Homo sapiens: one gene and its partners. The protein of the gene in region 1 interacts with the protein of each later gene in a biochemical or structural test. Each region holds a gene or a part of one and is shown in the gene's direction. Other genes may lie near its edges.

The links. Proteins that work in one complex are often made in the same cells at the same time.
Region 2: the proteins of IQGAP1 (region 1) and KDR form a complex in vitro, tested with the Homo sapiens proteins (one study listed by BioGRID).
Region 3: the proteins of IQGAP1 (region 1) and PTPRM form a complex in vitro, tested with the Homo sapiens proteins (one study listed by BioGRID).

The regions. Positions count from the first base shown.
Region 1 is NC_000015.10:90,482,214-90,489,252, forward strand, and holds part of IQGAP1 (ras GTPase-activating-like protein IQGAP1), read left to right. Parts: coding exon 1-68; intron 69-488; coding exon of another isoform or gene 489-509; exon of another isoform or gene 510-536; intron 537-1,147; coding exon 1,148-1,380; intron 1,381-2,006; coding exon 2,007-2,139; intron 2,140-3,816; coding exon 3,817-3,919; intron 3,920-4,740; coding exon 4,741-4,876; intron 4,877-5,281; coding exon 5,282-5,369; intron 5,370-7,039. UniProt on the Homo sapiens protein: Plays a crucial role in regulating the dynamics and assembly of the actin cytoskeleton.
Region 2 is NC_000004.12:55,077,958-55,080,611, reverse strand, and holds the end of KDR (vascular endothelial growth factor receptor 2 precursor), read left to right. Parts: intron 1-448; coding exon 449-671; 3' UTR 672-2,131; downstream 2,132-2,654. UniProt on the Homo sapiens protein: Tyrosine-protein kinase that acts as a cell-surface receptor for VEGFA, VEGFC and VEGFD. Plays an essential role in the regulation of angiogenesis, vascular development, vascular permeability, and embryonic hematopoiesis.
Region 3 is NC_000018.10:7,563,263-7,570,338, forward strand, and holds the start of PTPRM (receptor-type tyrosine-protein phosphatase mu isoform 1 precursor), read left to right. Parts: upstream 1-4,053; 5' UTR 4,054-4,556; coding exon 4,557-4,629; intron 4,630-7,076. UniProt on the Homo sapiens protein: Receptor protein-tyrosine phosphatase that mediates homotypic cell-cell interactions and plays a role in adipogenic differentiation via modulation of p120 catenin/CTNND1 phosphorylation.

The DNA.
Region 1 (7,039 bases):
TTGCCAAAGTGCTGAAGGACTCGTTGCATGAGAAGTTCCCTGATGCTGGTGAGGATGAGCTGCTGAAGGTAAGAATCTCATAGCCGGCAGACTCCTGCCCTTTGAGGACAAAGCAATAAAACCAGGGCTGACCATAGATCATTACTAACTGCCTAAGTGTAGGTTCTGGCAGTAGCTTACCATTGATTGTGAGCTTTTGAAAGCAATTGTAATTGGTAAATGGTACCTCTCTTAGGATGAAACACTTCCTATAGTTTGGCACACAAACATCAAACAAGTAGAAAGATGGATTTTTCCTGTTTTCAGATGAGTTTCTTTGAGTCCTATCTTTTCGCTGTAGTATTGTTCCCTCTGCTGGTGACCTGGCGAATAGTAGCAGGCACAGTTGTTTCTGCTAAGGCTGTTGCTGATAACTCTTTCTTACTCAGCTATGCTCTTCTCTTTTCTTTTTTTTTTTAATCTGAATGCTTTTTTCTTCTCTCTCCTAGTTCTGTGCTTTCCTACAGTGAGGCCTCGATTCTAGACTTTCTGTTCAGGTGAATTAATTTTATTTCTTCTGAATGAAACTCTAGGGGAAATGCTGTGACTGCCCCTGAATTCTTCTGTGGAAGAGATGTGTGTTAAGTGAATTTAATTTCAGAGGCATGAACTTGGCCTTTGAAGTCTGCAGCATGAGAATGTTGGGAGGTGGGGTTACTCTATGCTGATTGGGTCATGTTAAGGAATTTAGCTATGTTTGTTAGCTTTTTATAAGGAAAGCCCATCTACATGAAAGTACAAAGTGCATGTGGGTGACAGCAGCCTTATTTGCTACCATGATATGTGAACAAAAGATGCCCTGAAATACTTAATAACAGACTTTAAGTGTGTCATTTTTACCTTCTGAATCTGCTCTTTCATTAACTACTGGCAGTAGTTTTCAGTTCTGTTCTCATTGTTTTCCTGTATTGAACAAAGGGATATTTCATTTAGTTCCAGGCCATGAGAGAGAGTGTGTATATGTGCATGCATGCGTGTGTATATGTATTTTTTATTTATTTTTTCCTCATAGGACTGCATTTTCTGCTTTTCTTTGCTAGCAAAGTCATTTATAGCTTCCTTGGTGGTATGTCTTTTAATACCCATCTTTCTGTTTCGTCTGTTCCAGATTATTGGTAACTTGCTTTATTATCGATACATGAATCCAGCCATTGTTGCTCCTGATGCCTTTGACATCATTGACCTGTCAGCAGGAGGCCAGCTTACCACAGACCAACGCCGAAATCTGGGCTCCATTGCAAAAATGCTTCAGCATGCTGCTTCCAATAAGATGTTTCTGGGAGATAATGCCCACTTAAGCATCATTAATGAATATCTTTCCCAGTCCTACCAGAAATTCAGGTAAGGGGAAAGGCACAAGTGCTTAAGAGAGTCTGTGGATGTATTTTTATTGTTGAGGGGAAAAATAAGATTAAAAACCACCTCTCACTTTCCCCGGACTGCCATATGTAGAAGACGTGTTTGATGTGCCCAGGATTCCAGAAGATGATCCATTTACTTTGAAGAGAATTTTCATATGAAATAGATAGTAGTTAACACTTATGAAATAGATAGTAGTTAACATAAAAATAATGATGATTATGCATTTAGTACATGTTACCTTGTAATCAGAGAAGAATTGGAGAATGCTTTTAATTTTTGTAAATTAACATCTAGTTTTGAATTCAGTGCTTCAGAGCACTGTCTTAGAGATAGAATTGGTTCTCCTAATGGTGTCTGGAAACTTTTAAGTCATGGTGCAATGGTTCTTATGGGTAAAACTAAAACTACAAACTAGGTGGAGAAAGAAGTTATTCGAACCACTATCCCAAGGTTGTCAAGCACAGCAAACACACAGCACTTTCTCTTGAAGTAACTGTTGACTGGCTTCTGTTTGCACTCATTGTGTGAGAGGTTTGTGAAATGTCCTCTTGCCAACTTCATGTGTATGTCCCTTTTTGGGGGGCTGCCTCCTGTGCTTATTTCAGACGGTTTTTCCAAACTGCTTGTGATGTCCCAGAGCTTCAGGATAAATTTAATGTGGATGAGTACTCTGATTTAGTAACCCTCACCAAACCAGTAATCTACATTTCCATTGGTGAAATCATCAACACCCACACTGTAAGTATTTTTCTTTAATTACTTAATTTCATTGTCCTTAATTATTATCCCTGGCTGCTGCTTATCATCTCTGGTAGCCAGGTGTCTAACCTTCCTGTAATCTAACTGACAATGCATCTCCTTGATGTCTCTTTTTTTGCTTGTTATTCTTTTTTGTTTATTTATTTATTTTTTGAGACAGAGTCTCACTGTGTTGCCCAGGCTGGAGTGCAGTGGCGCGATCTCGGCTCACTGCAAGCTCCACCTCCTGGGTTCACACCATTCTCCTGCCTCAGCCTCCCGAGTAGCTGGGACTACAGGCACCCGCCACCGTGCCTGGCTAAATTTTTTGAATTTTTGGTAGAGACGGGGTTTCACTGTGTTAGCCAGCATGGTGTCGATATCCTGACCTCATGATCTGCCCACCTCGGCCCCCAAAAGTGCTGGGATTACAGGCGTGAGCCACCACGCCTGGCCTTTTGCTTGTTATTCTTAACAGTATCTACTGCTAAGTTTCTAAAAGGTCTTCCCAGGCCACCTGCATCAGAATCCTATGGGCTGATAGTTAAAAATGAAGTTTCCTGGACACCGCCCCAGGCCTACTGAATCAAAATCCCACTAAATTTATCTATTGCCTTAATAAAATAGTGCTTTTACTCTTCTTTCTTTTTACCCTAGCTCTCTGCGTTATTTTTCTAACATGATCTAGAATACTAGCTTTCTCTGTGTAGCCTTGGAGTGGATTTTTCCCTTGGAAGCTGGAGCTCCATGTTTCTTCAGATTTTTCAAATCATTTTTTCCCCTCTGGGGACATGGACATGTAAAACAGGAACAAGGGCATATGTTAAAATGTAAATGAAATTTCAGGTTACTGTCATTTCTGAGGGCATCACTGGGGATAATGGCACCTTGAAGACTTTGTTGAGTGCCCCTACAATAATTATAACATTGATTTGGTATACTTTTCTCTGAATTAAATCATGTCATACACTGGAAACATTAAGTAAAAGCGTGCACGTGACTTATTTGAACTGGCAGTAGGGTACATTGATGACTTTGGGTATTGAACTTTGAGTTTCAGTGTTTTGTGGGTTTTTTGTGTTTGTTTGTTTTGTTTTGTTTTTTTGAGATGGAGTCTTGCTCTGTCACTCAGGCTGGAGTGCAATGGCGCAATCTTGGCTCACTGCAACCTCCACCTACTGGGTTCAAGCAATTCTTCTGCATCAGCCTCCCTAGTAGCTGGGATTACAGGCACACACCAGCACGCCCAGCTAATTTTTGTATTTTTAGTAGAGACAGGGTTTCATCATGTTGTCCAGGCTGGTCTTGAACGCCTGACCTCAGGTGATCCACCCGCCTTGGCTTCCCAAAATGCTAGAATTACAGACGTGAGCCACTGCACCCAGCCAGTGTTCTTTCTCAAACAGGGCACATTTGAATCCTTTATGGCCATGAGGTTAAGAGAATACCAGTATTTCCTCTTCTTATATCATAACATAAGTCATTCAACAGAGCCTGGTGTGGTGCCTTATATATCATATTGTTTATTTGGGTTAGTTTGCTGAGGATTTGCTTGTTGTTTCTTTGAATATAGGAACTTTGTTGGAACCTCTTTGTGCAGATCATTGTTAGACATTCTAGGGAGGGACGGGCTGAAGAGTTGAATGTATAAATGGAGTTGATCATTGGTGTTTGCAGCTCCTGTTGGATCACCAGGATGCCATTGCTCCGGAGCACAATGATCCAATCCACGAACTGCTGGACGACCTCGGCGAGGTGCCCACCATCGAGTCCCTGATAGGTAGAGTTCTAACTTTTGCCTGGAAGATCAAAAGGGAATGTGACAGAAAAGTGTTGTAATTGTCACCTCCTCTATTTTTTGCACTATACCAAACTCTGGATATACATTGAGAAATAAAATAGATGTGATCCTGATAGTTTCATAAGAGAGAAAACAACAACAACAACAAAAGCCCAGATGTGATCAATATCTATAAGGAACTGGAGTCAGAGGAAAAGATCATTTTAAACGCAGATACATACTGCCAGCTTGTGTTTTTTTAAAAAAATTGCAGATACATAAATTAAAAGTCCTCTAAAGGAAAGAATTTTTTTGTTTGTTTGTTATGAGACAGGGTCTCCCTCTGTTGCCCAGGCTGAAGTACAGTGGTGCAGTCATAGCTCACTGCAGCCTCAAATTCCTAGGCTCAAGTGATCCTCCTGAGTTGTTTTTTTTTTTTTTAATAGAGATGGAGTCTCACTATGTTGCCCAGGCTGGTCTCGAACTCCTGGCCTCAAGCCATCCTCCTCCTTTAGCCTTCCAAAGTGCTGGGATTGCAGGACTGAGCCACTGCACCCAGCCAGAAAGAATGTTTTCAGAGAGAATTGTGATATTGTAGTGTTGAAATGATTTCTCAAACATTTATGGAGTTATTATGGATCCCTTGCCTTTATCATTTGGCATAACATTTTATTTCTCAGTAAAAGTTGTTCTCGTCACACTGTATGTGTTAGGTGATTCAAGTATTATCTTAGACTTGCATCATCTTATATTTGTATTATTTCCCCCCAATATCTCCTCTCTTTATTACGCTGACTCTTTCCACCCTCCCAAAACTTCAGGGGAAAGCTCTGGCAATTTAAATGACCCAAATAAGGAGGCACTGGCTAAGACGGAAGTGTCTCTCACCCTGACCAACAAGTTCGACGTGCCTGGAGATGAGAATGCAGAAATGGATGCTCGAACCATCTTACTGAAGTGAGTATCAAAAGAAGGAAGAATGAAATGAATGTAATCTGAAGGTTTCTTGGCCTTTGGAGAGGAACCTGCTGGGTCCTACCTGAAATGACCATCCTGACCTCTCGTACTTGTCATAATCCCAGTCACCAATCACCTCGCATATTGTACTTGGTACAGGACTTATCTGCCTTATTTTGCTAATATGCTACAGTGAAATGTAAATCTTGGAAATCCTAACCCTCGTACCTACTTATGGAATGGCTGGGTAAATAAGCCTTGTGCCTTGAGTACTGTGTACTGGCAGCTGCCGCTTGGGACTTCTGTGAGGTACTGTTTGTGCTGCTGCTGCTGCTGCTGCTTCGGTCCACTTGAGAGGAACTAGAACACTGGTAATATTTAAATGCCTCCCCCATCTCGTTTCAGTACAAAACGTTTAATTGTGGATGTCATCCGGTTCCAGCCAGGAGAGACCTTGACTGAAATCCTAGAAACACCAGCCACCAGTGAACAGGTAAAATTTAGGGTCTAACATACTCCTTTGTTTGGTAGATAAGCTCTCCCGATAGGCGCATGTCAGAGAAAGGAGGGGAGACACAAATAACAGTTGGTAGCCTAGGGGTGAGCATGAATGTAACTGGGGGACAGTGGTAGTTATGGCTCGTCTGAGAAAGTTTTTGCTTCCTGAGTCCAGGTGATGTCCTTTGGACAGGAAGCTCACTGGCACTTGCATGCAGAATCATTGTGCCCATCCCGTATATCCATCCCTTGGTATCCACAGGCGATTCTTTCCAGCACCCATTCTCCCCACCCCCGGCCAATACCAAAATCCATAGATGTTGAAGTCCCTTATATAAAATGGTGTAGTATTTGGCCGGGCATGGTGGCTCATGCCTGTAATCCCAGCACTTTGGGAGGCTGAGGTGGGTAGTTCACGAGGTCAGGAGATTGTGACCATCCTGGCTAACACGTGAAACCCCGTCTCTACTAAAAATACAAAAAATTAGCCAGGCTAGGTGGTAGATGCCTGTAGTCCCAGCTACTTGGGAGGCTGAGGCAGGAGAATGGCATGTACCCAGGAGGCGGAGCCTGCATTGAGCCAAGATCGCACCACTGCACTCCAGCCTGGGCGACAGAGCGAGACTCCGTCTCAAAAAATAATAATAAATAAATAAATAAATAAATAAATAAATAAAATGTTGTAGTATTTGCATATACTTACGTTCTCCCATATACTTTAAATCATCTCTAGACTACTTATAATACCTACTACAATATAAATGCTGTGTAAATAGTTGTTACTGTATTTTTAAAATTTGTATTATTTTGTATTGTTGTATTTTTTTTTCAAACAGTTTCAGGGTTGGTTGAAACCATGAATGTGTAGGGTTCACTGCAATTTATTGAATATTATATATTTTGAATTCTGTTACATGCCTTGGTAGATAGAAGAAAAGTACAGAATGTGGCTCCTAAACTCAGTGAACCCATGGTCTTGTTGGGGAAATGTGACATATATACCTGAAACAGTGATGAACTGTTTCAAAATTAACTATGTTACTGACTGAAAAATAAGAGAAGTTTCAGGAAAGAGGCCAGTGAAGCAGTGCATTAGGAAGCTTCCTAAAAGAAGTGGAACCGGAGCCAGATGTATAAAGGTGGAAAGGATTTGGGTGTGCATGTAAGACAAGAGAGGGCATTCGAGGCAGGAGAGCGATGTGAACAAAGGTACAAAGGAGGGAAGAGCATGATGCGACTAGACTACATGTCTAGAATGGAGCTGTGGGTGGAGGTGAGTAGTGAGAAATAAAACATGAGACCAAATTATTTAGAACTCACAAACTAGATGGGAATTTGTCACTGCAGAGATAAGGAATAAAGAGCCTCTGTAAGGTTGAAGACCATTTAATAAAAGTTAATTAATTCAGCAGTGCTATTAGAGCAGATGTAGTTGAGTCATATAGGTGTGTGATAAGGTCCAGTGGGGTGGGCAGATGGTTGGGTCCTGGCATTTTGTAGGGTTGGATGAGTCATGTCATATCTAAGACCCTTGTTTCTTTTTTTTTTTTTTTTTTAATTTGAGACAGAGTCTCACTCTCACTCAGGCTGGACTGCAGTGGCGTGATCTTGGCTCACTGCAACCTCCGCCTCCTGGGTTCAAGCGATTCTCCTGCCTCAGCCTCC
Region 2 (2,654 bases), on another chromosome or scaffold:
CAACCATACACATGCCCCGTAATTCCCAAATTGCCACAATAGGAAAAGCACAAGTGAAATTTAAGAACATCCCAATTTCCTTGAATATCATGCAAGTGGCCCTTTGGCGCCTGTCACTGTATACAAATTTGTCAATCTGCGAGGCCATAAACATGTTCCATCAGTTGGGGCCTTTGCATAACTCGAGAGAACTGCCTTTCATCTCATTTGAGGCTTGAAAGACTTGGACCTGAGTAAGAGGACTTATCTGCAACTACTAATTCATGCGAGTACCTGAAAATAGACCTTGTCCCTGTAAACCTGCTATGCTGATTAACAACTGGGAGAGATACGGGGCTGCGGTCTCCAGGGAGATGGCAGCCATATGGAGTTGGGAATGGGGTGAGGGTAAAAAGCAAAAGAATTGTCTTCTCTCTGCCAACTCCTTTGTTTGCCATTTCTTCTGCAGTGGAATGGTGCCCAGCAAAAGCAGGGAGTCTGTGGCATCTGAAGGCTCAAACCAGACAAGCGGCTACCAGTCCGGATATCACTCCGATGACACAGACACCACCGTGTACTCCAGTGAGGAAGCAGAACTTTTAAAGCTGATAGAGATTGGAGTGCAAACCGGTAGCACAGCCCAGATTCTCCAGCCTGACTCGGGGACCACACTGAGCTCTCCTCCTGTTTAAAAGGAAGCATCCACACCCCCAACTCCTGGACATCACATGAGAGGTGCTGCTCAGATTTTCAAGTGTTGTTCTTTCCACCAGCAGGAAGTAGCCGCATTTGATTTTCATTTCGACAACAGAAAAAGGACCTCGGACTGCAGGGAGCCAGTCTTCTAGGCATATCCTGGAAGAGGCTTGTGACCCAAGAATGTGTCTGTGTCTTCTCCCAGTGTTGACCTGATCCTCTTTTTCATTCATTTAAAAAGCATTTATCATGCCCCCTGCTGCGGGTCTCACCATGGGTTTAGAACAAAGACGTTCAAGAAATGGCCCCATCCTCAAAGAAGTAGCAGTACCTGGGGAGCTGACACTTCTGTAAAACTAGAAGATAAACCAGGCAATGTAAGTGTTCGAGGTGTTGAAGATGGGAAGGATTTGCAGGGCTGAGTCTATCCAAGAGGCTTTGTTTAGGACGTGGGTCCCAAGCCAAGCCTTAAGTGTGGAATTCGGATTGATAGAAAGGAAGACTAACGTTACCTTGCTTTGGAGAGTACTGGAGCCTGCAAATGCATTGTGTTTGCTCTGGTGGAGGTGGGCATGGGGTCTGTTCTGAAATGTAAAGGGTTCAGACGGGGTTTCTGGTTTTAGAAGGTTGCGTGTTCTTCGAGTTGGGCTAAAGTAGAGTTCGTTGTGCTGTTTCTGACTCCTAATGAGAGTTCCTTCCAGACCGTTACGTGTCTCCTGGCCAAGCCCCAGGAAGGAAATGATGCAGCTCTGGCTCCTTGTCTCCCAGGCTGATCCTTTATTCAGAATACCACAAAGAAAGGACATTCAGCTCAAGGCTCCCTGCCGTGTTGAAGAGTTCTGACTGCACAAACCAGCTTCTGGTTTCTTCTGGAATGAATACCCTCATATCTGTCCTGATGTGATATGTCTGAGACTGAATGCGGGAGGTTCAATGTGAAGCTGTGTGTGGTGTCAAAGTTTCAGGAAGGATTTTACCCTTTTGTTCTTCCCCCTGTCCCCAACCCACTCTCACCCCGCAACCCATCAGTATTTTAGTTATTTGGCCTCTACTCCAGTAAACCTGATTGGGTTTGTTCACTCTCTGAATGATTATTAGCCAGACTTCAAAATTATTTTATAGCCCAAATTATAACATCTATTGTATTATTTAGACTTTTAACATATAGAGCTATTTCTACTGATTTTTGCCCTTGTTCTGTCCTTTTTTTCAAAAAAGAAAATGTGTTTTTTGTTTGGTACCATAGTGTGAAATGCTGGGAACAATGACTATAAGACATGCTATGGCACATATATTTATAGTCTGTTTATGTAGAAACAAATGTAATATATTAAAGCCTTATATATAATGAACTTTGTACTATTCACATTTTGTATCAGTATTATGTAGCATAACAAAGGTCATAATGCTTTCAGCAATTGATGTCATTTTATTAAAGAACATTGAAAAACTTGAAGGAATCCCTTTGCAAGGTTGCATTACTGTACCCATCATTTCTAAAATGGAAGAGGGGGTGGCTGGGCACAGTGGCCGACACCTAAAAACCCAGCACTTTGGGGGGCCAAGGTGGGAGGATCGCTTGAGCCCAGGAGTTCAAGACCAGTCTGGCCAACATGGTCAGATTCCATCTCAAAGAAAAAAGGTAAAAATAAAATAAAATGGAGAAGAAGGAATCAGACATAATTTCCATGTGGTTGTTTTACATTTTTACTGGTTTTCTTACTCTTCTTATAAGGGATATTTTCATAAACTGATTATATATTTTACAAACCAATAAATGTATTTGTAGTACAAAGTATGAGGGTATAATATCACCACAACTATTTTGAGGATAAGTATGTCTGGTTTAAAGTTTAACTGCTTCTTCCCTCTTCTTCTTCATTACAAAGAATTCACACACACACACACACACACACACACACACACACACACGCCACGCATACACCCCCCAACACCCACACCTCCTCCCAGCCCCCCCA
Region 3 (7,076 bases), on another chromosome or scaffold:
TATCATACAGTCTTAAATAATGAGGGTTTCCTAGCAATGCCAAACATTCATTTTCTTGCTTCTCTTTTTGTTACAATTCATGGTTCTGGCAGAAGTCATACAGCAGTATAGCATTTGCATGCGGTTGAACGTGGTGATTGGCCAATATTTTGAAAAATTAACTAATTAATGTTACTGTTAAAATGGTAGATATGAAGTTATAACACATGAAACATAATACTGATTATTTATGTTAGCAACCAGGTGGACAATGAATGCTAGAATTGCTAAGTTTATGTTTTATTTACACATTAATAAGGTGTAATTAAATTTCCAAATATTAAATAAAATGTTTATGCTTTAAAAAAATAACTTTTCAGTGTTTATATTCATTGTCATAATTTGTATTTTGCATTTTAATTCTAATAGATAACTTTAAATCATTTGAAAGAAAACTTTTAACAACTATAGAAAAATAATTCTAATTTTCTGAAATAAAAAAAGGAATTTACATTTGTGGTGTAAGTACAAACATTTTGTATGATTTGACTACATTAATCCTTTATTTATTTATTTTTTAGAATTGGGATTTCATTCTTTACCCAGACGGAGTGTAGAGTGCACAGCTCATTGCAACCTCAAACTCCTAGGCTCAAATGATCCTCCAGCCTCAGCCTCCTGAGTAGGTGGGACTACAGGGATAAACCACCATGTTTGACTATTTAAAAAACTGTTTTGTAGTGACAGGATCTTGCCATGTTGTCCAAGCTGGTCTAGAAATCCTGGCCTCAAGTGATCCTCTGGCCTCTGCCTCTTGAGTCGCTGGGATTACAGGTGTGAGCCACCACATGGGGCCTGAATAGATGAATCTTTTAGATCAATGTTGTTCAATAGTGCTTTCTATGATGATGGACTTGTTTTCTCTCCATGTTGTACAATACATTAGCTCTAGCCACATGAAGCTACTGAGCATTTGAAATGTAGCTAGTGTCACTGAGGAACAGAACACCTGAAATGCTGTTAGGTGCTACCATACAGAACAGCAAAGCTTTCAATCACCGCTGTCAATGGAACACAAATTAAGTGAAAATCTCAATTATAACAACACAGTGATTTTACTAAAGAGAAATATCAATTTTATAGAATAAATATATATGAATCATGTATATTACTTATCCATATAGCCTATCAAAGAAAATCTAGATATGTATAATGTCTAGCAGATATGCATAATTCAGTTGCTGATATTTTGCTTTTTGTCATATAAAATCTGTAGGTTTTATATTTCAATTTTATTGTTATATGTGTCAAGGTAGGAATATACATAGTAGTTTGCTAGCTTAATTAATAACTTTGAAATATTAGGCATATGGTAAGTGGCTATGCATTTGTACTCTTGCCCAAGCCTACCAATGTCAGGGGCTGGCCTGACAGCACCCCTAACTCTGAGCAGCCATTCTGCAAATGTCACTATTGTCCTCAGTGAGTCAGGAGTGAAATGTGGTTAAAACTAAATCTCTACTGCTGAAAAAACAAGTCAAAGCAAATGTCCCACTGGGAGGATTCCTACAGCATCCCTTCCTTAGAGGAAGTCCAATCCATTCATTTCAGCAGAGGACTTCCATTTAGGCTCAAAGGCTGCTCTGACCAGTTACCTGTAAGAGGGAGTAAACTAACAGTAGTTGTCATGAATTGAGAGGGCAGAAGCTGCTGGCAAAAATCCCACCACCCTTTGAAATGTGGATGGAAGGCTGCAAAGGGTAGAGTCAACTTAACAGTGTAAAGATAGAGAACAGGGGTAATAGAAATTTACAGACCCTCCCACTAAGCTTTAAGTAACAGGCAGAAGGGACAGGGTTTGTAGAGGTTACCAAGAGGAGTCCTGTGGCAGCAGCAGTTGGAGTACTGGCAGGGATTTCTGTCTAATGCCTCAGTGGCAGGTCCGTAGAGTGGCCCTTTCCTCTTCCATCCAGCTCCTCATCGTCCCCCCGCAGGGGGATTGAGTTTCCCTTGCCCATAGTGGTAACCTGCTTATTGACACATCTCATATCGATGTCTGCTTTTTTTTTTCTTCTCTGTCTTGCTGTCTCACCTTCCTTATAGTGCTTTCTGGGATCACTTCCCCAATTCAAAACCACTTATAGTTAAATCCTAACCTCCAGGTCTGTTTCTGAGGGAGCCCAGCCTAAGACAACCTCCAGTACTTAGCACAGTGCCTGACATATGGTATTGACTCAGTAGATATTTGCTGAAAGAATAAAATACTTTGCAAATGAAATCCTACCCTAATATTAACTTCACCTAATTTAAAGAAGTTACTCTGAAGCAAAGTGATTAGATCAACTTTTGTCTCCCTAGCTTCCACCTCTGTCCTCCCACTAGCAGAAAAACTCCATTGGAAAGCCTATTACTAATTTTTTTTAAAGCAAATTTGAACTGCAGTATAGAACACAAGTACATCAAAATGGAAAGCCCAGGTTGCAGATTTGACCATCCTCACTTGCTGATCTTGAAGACATTGCTTCCTTTCTGAGATTTCAATGTTCATTTCACAATTAAAGATAAGGTTCCATAAGCACATAGTTGGGAGAAGTGGCAGGACAATGTAAGCTCATATTAACAAGCAAATGATTAATATAGAGACTTCTAAAGAGCAGGTCTGGTAAGTATCTAGTAAGTGGACTTCCTGAAGTAAGAGGAGTGTTGGTTGCCACACTAAAGGCAAGTCTTCTAGTCCCCAAATTTGCCTTGGGAGGATGACAGCTGTATCTTTCTTGGTTCTGGTGTACAGTGGAGAACAGGGTCAAGATGAGTGTGGAATCCATTTATTTTTTTACGTGTTTATAAGCACTAGAAAGCAGTGAGCACTAAGCAGAGGACCCCTCTTGCGGAAAAAGTGCAGGAGAGCTCCTGGGTGCCTCTGTATCACCGGTTTGCCTTCTAGCCAGAATCATTGCTAGAACCCTGTCACTCAGTTACTTTGGTTCCTAATTTAACCTCTTCCCAAGCCTTCTATTGCGTTCAGTTAGCTAGGCCAGGAGCTTACAGCTGTCTGGTTGGTGCTGGCTCAATGTGCTTATTCCCTGGAAGATAGAAGGATCACTTACAAAAAAATTTACAATTAAAATAAAAAAATTATTTTTTGCTGAAGCATTGTAAGGTTTTTTTAATTCACTCAGACCCAAAATCGTAAAACTAAAATATTTCAAGACATTACTTGATTCACCCCCCACTTCTCTTTCTCCCCTGTTTCTCAGCACTTTGCACCAGATACAGAAACCACGGGTTATGTCCAAACCCTGGTTTTGGTGTGACCACCGCCTTCCGTGTACTGCCTGCGGCTCGCTTCGGGCCCACACGGGACACCGAGGCATGATGAGGACGCAGAACAGCAGAAGCGCGCCCTGCTTCCCGGGCGCCAGTGCTCGGGGCCAGCGGCGTGTACCCGGCGGGCCCGGCCGGGAGCGGGCTGGCGATCGCGGGGCTCGGCGCTCCCGGCTCCCGCGCCATCTCCCGGCGCCCGCCAACTTCGCTCCGCCCGCGGCGTAGAGAAGCTCGCAGCCCTCCGGAGCCTCAGCGATCTCCTGGCTCGCTTTTCCCGCAGCCGCCGAGCAGCGCAGGCCCGGCGACTCCGGGTGCAGCTGGCCCTGTGCGGTGACATCGCCGTCCGGCGCCAGGCTCGAAGCCGCCTGGCCGCGCCCGCGGGGTCGCAGGCCGCTGGTCCCGCCCGGCCGCGCTCACAAACTACTCGCGGCTCGTGACCCGGGACAAACTTCTGGCGGCGGCGCAGCCTCTTCCACAGTCACCCTCCCCAGAGCCAGCTACCAAAATAGAAGACGCGGCCGGGGCGAGGAGGTGGGCGGGGGGAGCCCGGTGGCCGCTCCTCCCCGCGCGGCTGACGCCCGCTTCGGCGGCGGTAGTGGCTGTGGCCGCGGGGCCGCCCCCAGCCGAGCTCCCGGAGGCGCTCGGGCGCGGGCCGGCGGGGCACGGGCGCTCACGCCCTCTAGCGGGCCGCGGCGGCGCCGGGCGGCCGTGACGTGAGCGCTCCCTTCAGCCGGCCTGCGGGGCACCGCCAGTCAGTCGGGGAGCAAGAGCCCCGCGCGCAGCCGGCGCGGGCTCGGTCATCGGCGCGCCGCCGCCCGGGGCTGGGCTTGGGGCTGCCTGTGGAGAGGCGGCGGGCGGAACGCGCGCGGCCACGGCCACGGCCACCGCCACGGCCACGGCCGGCAGCTCGGGTCCCGGGTCCCGGGCAGGGGAAGGGGAGAGGCGGCGAGCTCAGCAACCGGAACCGAGGGAAGATTTTGGCTCCGCGGGCTCGCCCTCCGCTCCCTCTGCCAGCGGCGCCAGACGCCGAGTGGGGCCAGGGACAGGGGAGGAGGACCCAGGACCCTGTGCCCGCGCCCCTGGAGCCGCTGGAGTTCGGACTTCTGCAACTGTTGGCACTTTGGGGGCTTGGCTTAGCGCTCTGCTGTTTACCCGTCTCTCCTCGCTGCCTCGGAACCAAAGCTCCCGGCCCCCTCCGCCCTCGCGCGCCCACCCACCGCCGCCGGGGAGCGGCCCGGCCCGCACTCAGCACCATGAGGGGACTTGGGACTTGCCTGGCGACTTTGGCCGGACTTTTGCTAACTGCGGCGGGCGAGACGTTCTCAGGTAAGCGGGACCGCCTCTGCCGCCCCCGAGGCGCGCGGGCCGGCGCGGGACGCCCGGGACGCCGACAGCTCCCTGGTGGTAGAGCCCTAAGGCTGGCGTCGGGGCCGGGCGGGGGGCGCGGCGGGCCGGACACCGCTTCTGCCTGTGAGCCGGGCGCTGGGCGAGGGGCCGTGGGGCTGGCAGGCACCCAGTCCTCGGGCGGGCGGAGCGGACGGACCCCGAGGGCGAGCTCCCCAGCCGGGACTGCCAGCTCGGCCGCCGTCCTTCCGCGGCCTGGGCTAGTGCTCAAGGTTGGGCGGCTTGCACTCTTGAGTCCCTGGCCGGCTGCAAAAGGAACAGCAGAAAACTTTGCTTGAAGTTCCCAGTTGCAGCCGCCGGGCCGCCTGGCGTAGGCGCTGCGCGGTCCCCGCCGACCCCGAGCAGCGGCCGGGCCCAGGCCGCTGGTGTTCGGCTGCGCCCGCAGCGATCGCCGGGAACTGGCGGCCGCTCCGGCGGCGGCGATCTCCCGGTGCCCTGCCCTCCCTGTCGCCCCCTGCCCGGCGCGGCTGGCGACCCCGGGAGGTCCCCGCGGTCGTGCAGCGTCTGCGGAGAGGCTGGGGGGAGTTCCTCGCCGGTCCCAGCGGTAGGGCTTGGCGGCCGCGGAGGGAAGCGGGCAGGTCCCCAGGCCCTGGCCACGGCCCTGCGCCCCGCTGGGCTCCCCCTCCCCACCCTCGTCCCCCTAGCGGAGCGCCGCGGCCAGCTGCAACTTGTTCATCCAGCCCGGCTGCCCGGGGGTCCCAGGTGGGAAGGAGAGGCACTGGCGGTGTGCGAGCAAGCGTGTGAGTGTGTGCGCGTGTGTGCCTGCACGCGCGCGCGGGGGCGTTCTAAGCCCAGAGGAACCCCTCACGGAGAGGATCTGTGGATCGGAGTCGGGGGTCCGGCGTGGGGGCGAACCCGGCACGCTGTCACAGGGGTTTACAACCAGGATGACCTTTATTACCTGGGTGACACAGGTGGATAGACGGCAAATGCTGGCCCATTTGCACACCTTCTTTCTAGTGTTTATTAGATTAGTTTCATTAAGGTCCACATGCAGTGGGGGCGGTGGGCTTTCTTTTTCTTTAATAAAAAAGCCTGCTCTTTGGTCTTAAACTTGGTTTTTGCAAAATAGGTCTCTGCGTTTGGGAACAAGTGAGTTGAATGAGTAAGTTGGGCTTTTTAAGAATTTAATGAAGAGGACTTTCATAAACAGTAAAGAGCATATTTTAAGCAGTAAAAACCTTTGGTCCTCCGGTGCGTGGAAACCTTTTTATTTTCTTGGGGTCCAGGACCATTGGCTGCTGGAGCTCTGGACTCACAGGCACATTAGTTGTGTCTTGTGTGTTGCTGATCTGCAGGACCCTTGATCACAGTTGGCCTCAGAGAAGGAGTGGAACGTGTAGGTTTTGAAACCCAAAGCATCAACTTCAATACAGAAATATCCTTTCTCCAAGTTTTGTGTTTCCCTAACTGCCTGGTAATTGCACGTGCTCCAGAGGATTTAACACAATGATGCACTGTCGTCTGATTATAAAACTGATGCAGAATTTGGTCTGTGTTCTTATTAGTGAATAATAGAGTAGAATTTGAGAGCCTTGTAACTCATTAGTATTAGAAGCCAAGTATGAGAGCCCTAGTGATGGTTTTCTCTTTATTAACATCCATGACTCCCTTCTTGGGATTTGTTTAAAGTTAAGCTGTGTCAAATATCATTTGGATGGATTTTTAAATTGTGTGCAAGGGAGTGGAAACAAATATTTATATTGCTTATTTAAACCATGGGTTCCTCATCACCAAAAAGGATTTCAGCCTCAGTTGTACTGACCCATGTCCTTGTTAAGGCTGATGTAAATGATCAGTCAAGCCAAAATAGACTTCTACTAAAATTTAGCCTGATTTTTCATTTGGAAGAAATATATCTATTTGTTTGAGTTAATCATACCATTAAGTGAAATGTGTTTTCTTTTCTATCTAGAAAGCCAGAGTTATCCTGGCATGCTAGTGGGTAAAGGGCAGCATCCAAGCCATGCCTCAGAAACGTTGAACTTTAAAAAATGTAAAATTGGATTAGCTGGGTGTGGTGGCGTGTGACTGTAGTCCCAGCTGCTCTAGAGGCAGAGGCAGGAGGATAGCTTGAGCCCAGGAGTTTGAGGTTGCAGTGAGCTATGATTGCACCACTGCACCCCAGCCTGGGTGACAGAGTGAGAATCCGTCTCAAAAAAAAAGTGAAAAGTGAAGATGGCAAATTTCATATGTGCAAGGATCAGATATGTTTCACTTCATTATTTATTTTTCTCTCCATATTGCGTTTAGGTAGTACAGGTGTGAATCAGGGTTTTGTTTTTTGTTTTTGTATGTTGAGGAAGTTAATTCTGAATGCTAGGAGTGGCATTGACACATTTCTTTTTTATGTTTCTTCCAGAAATTGT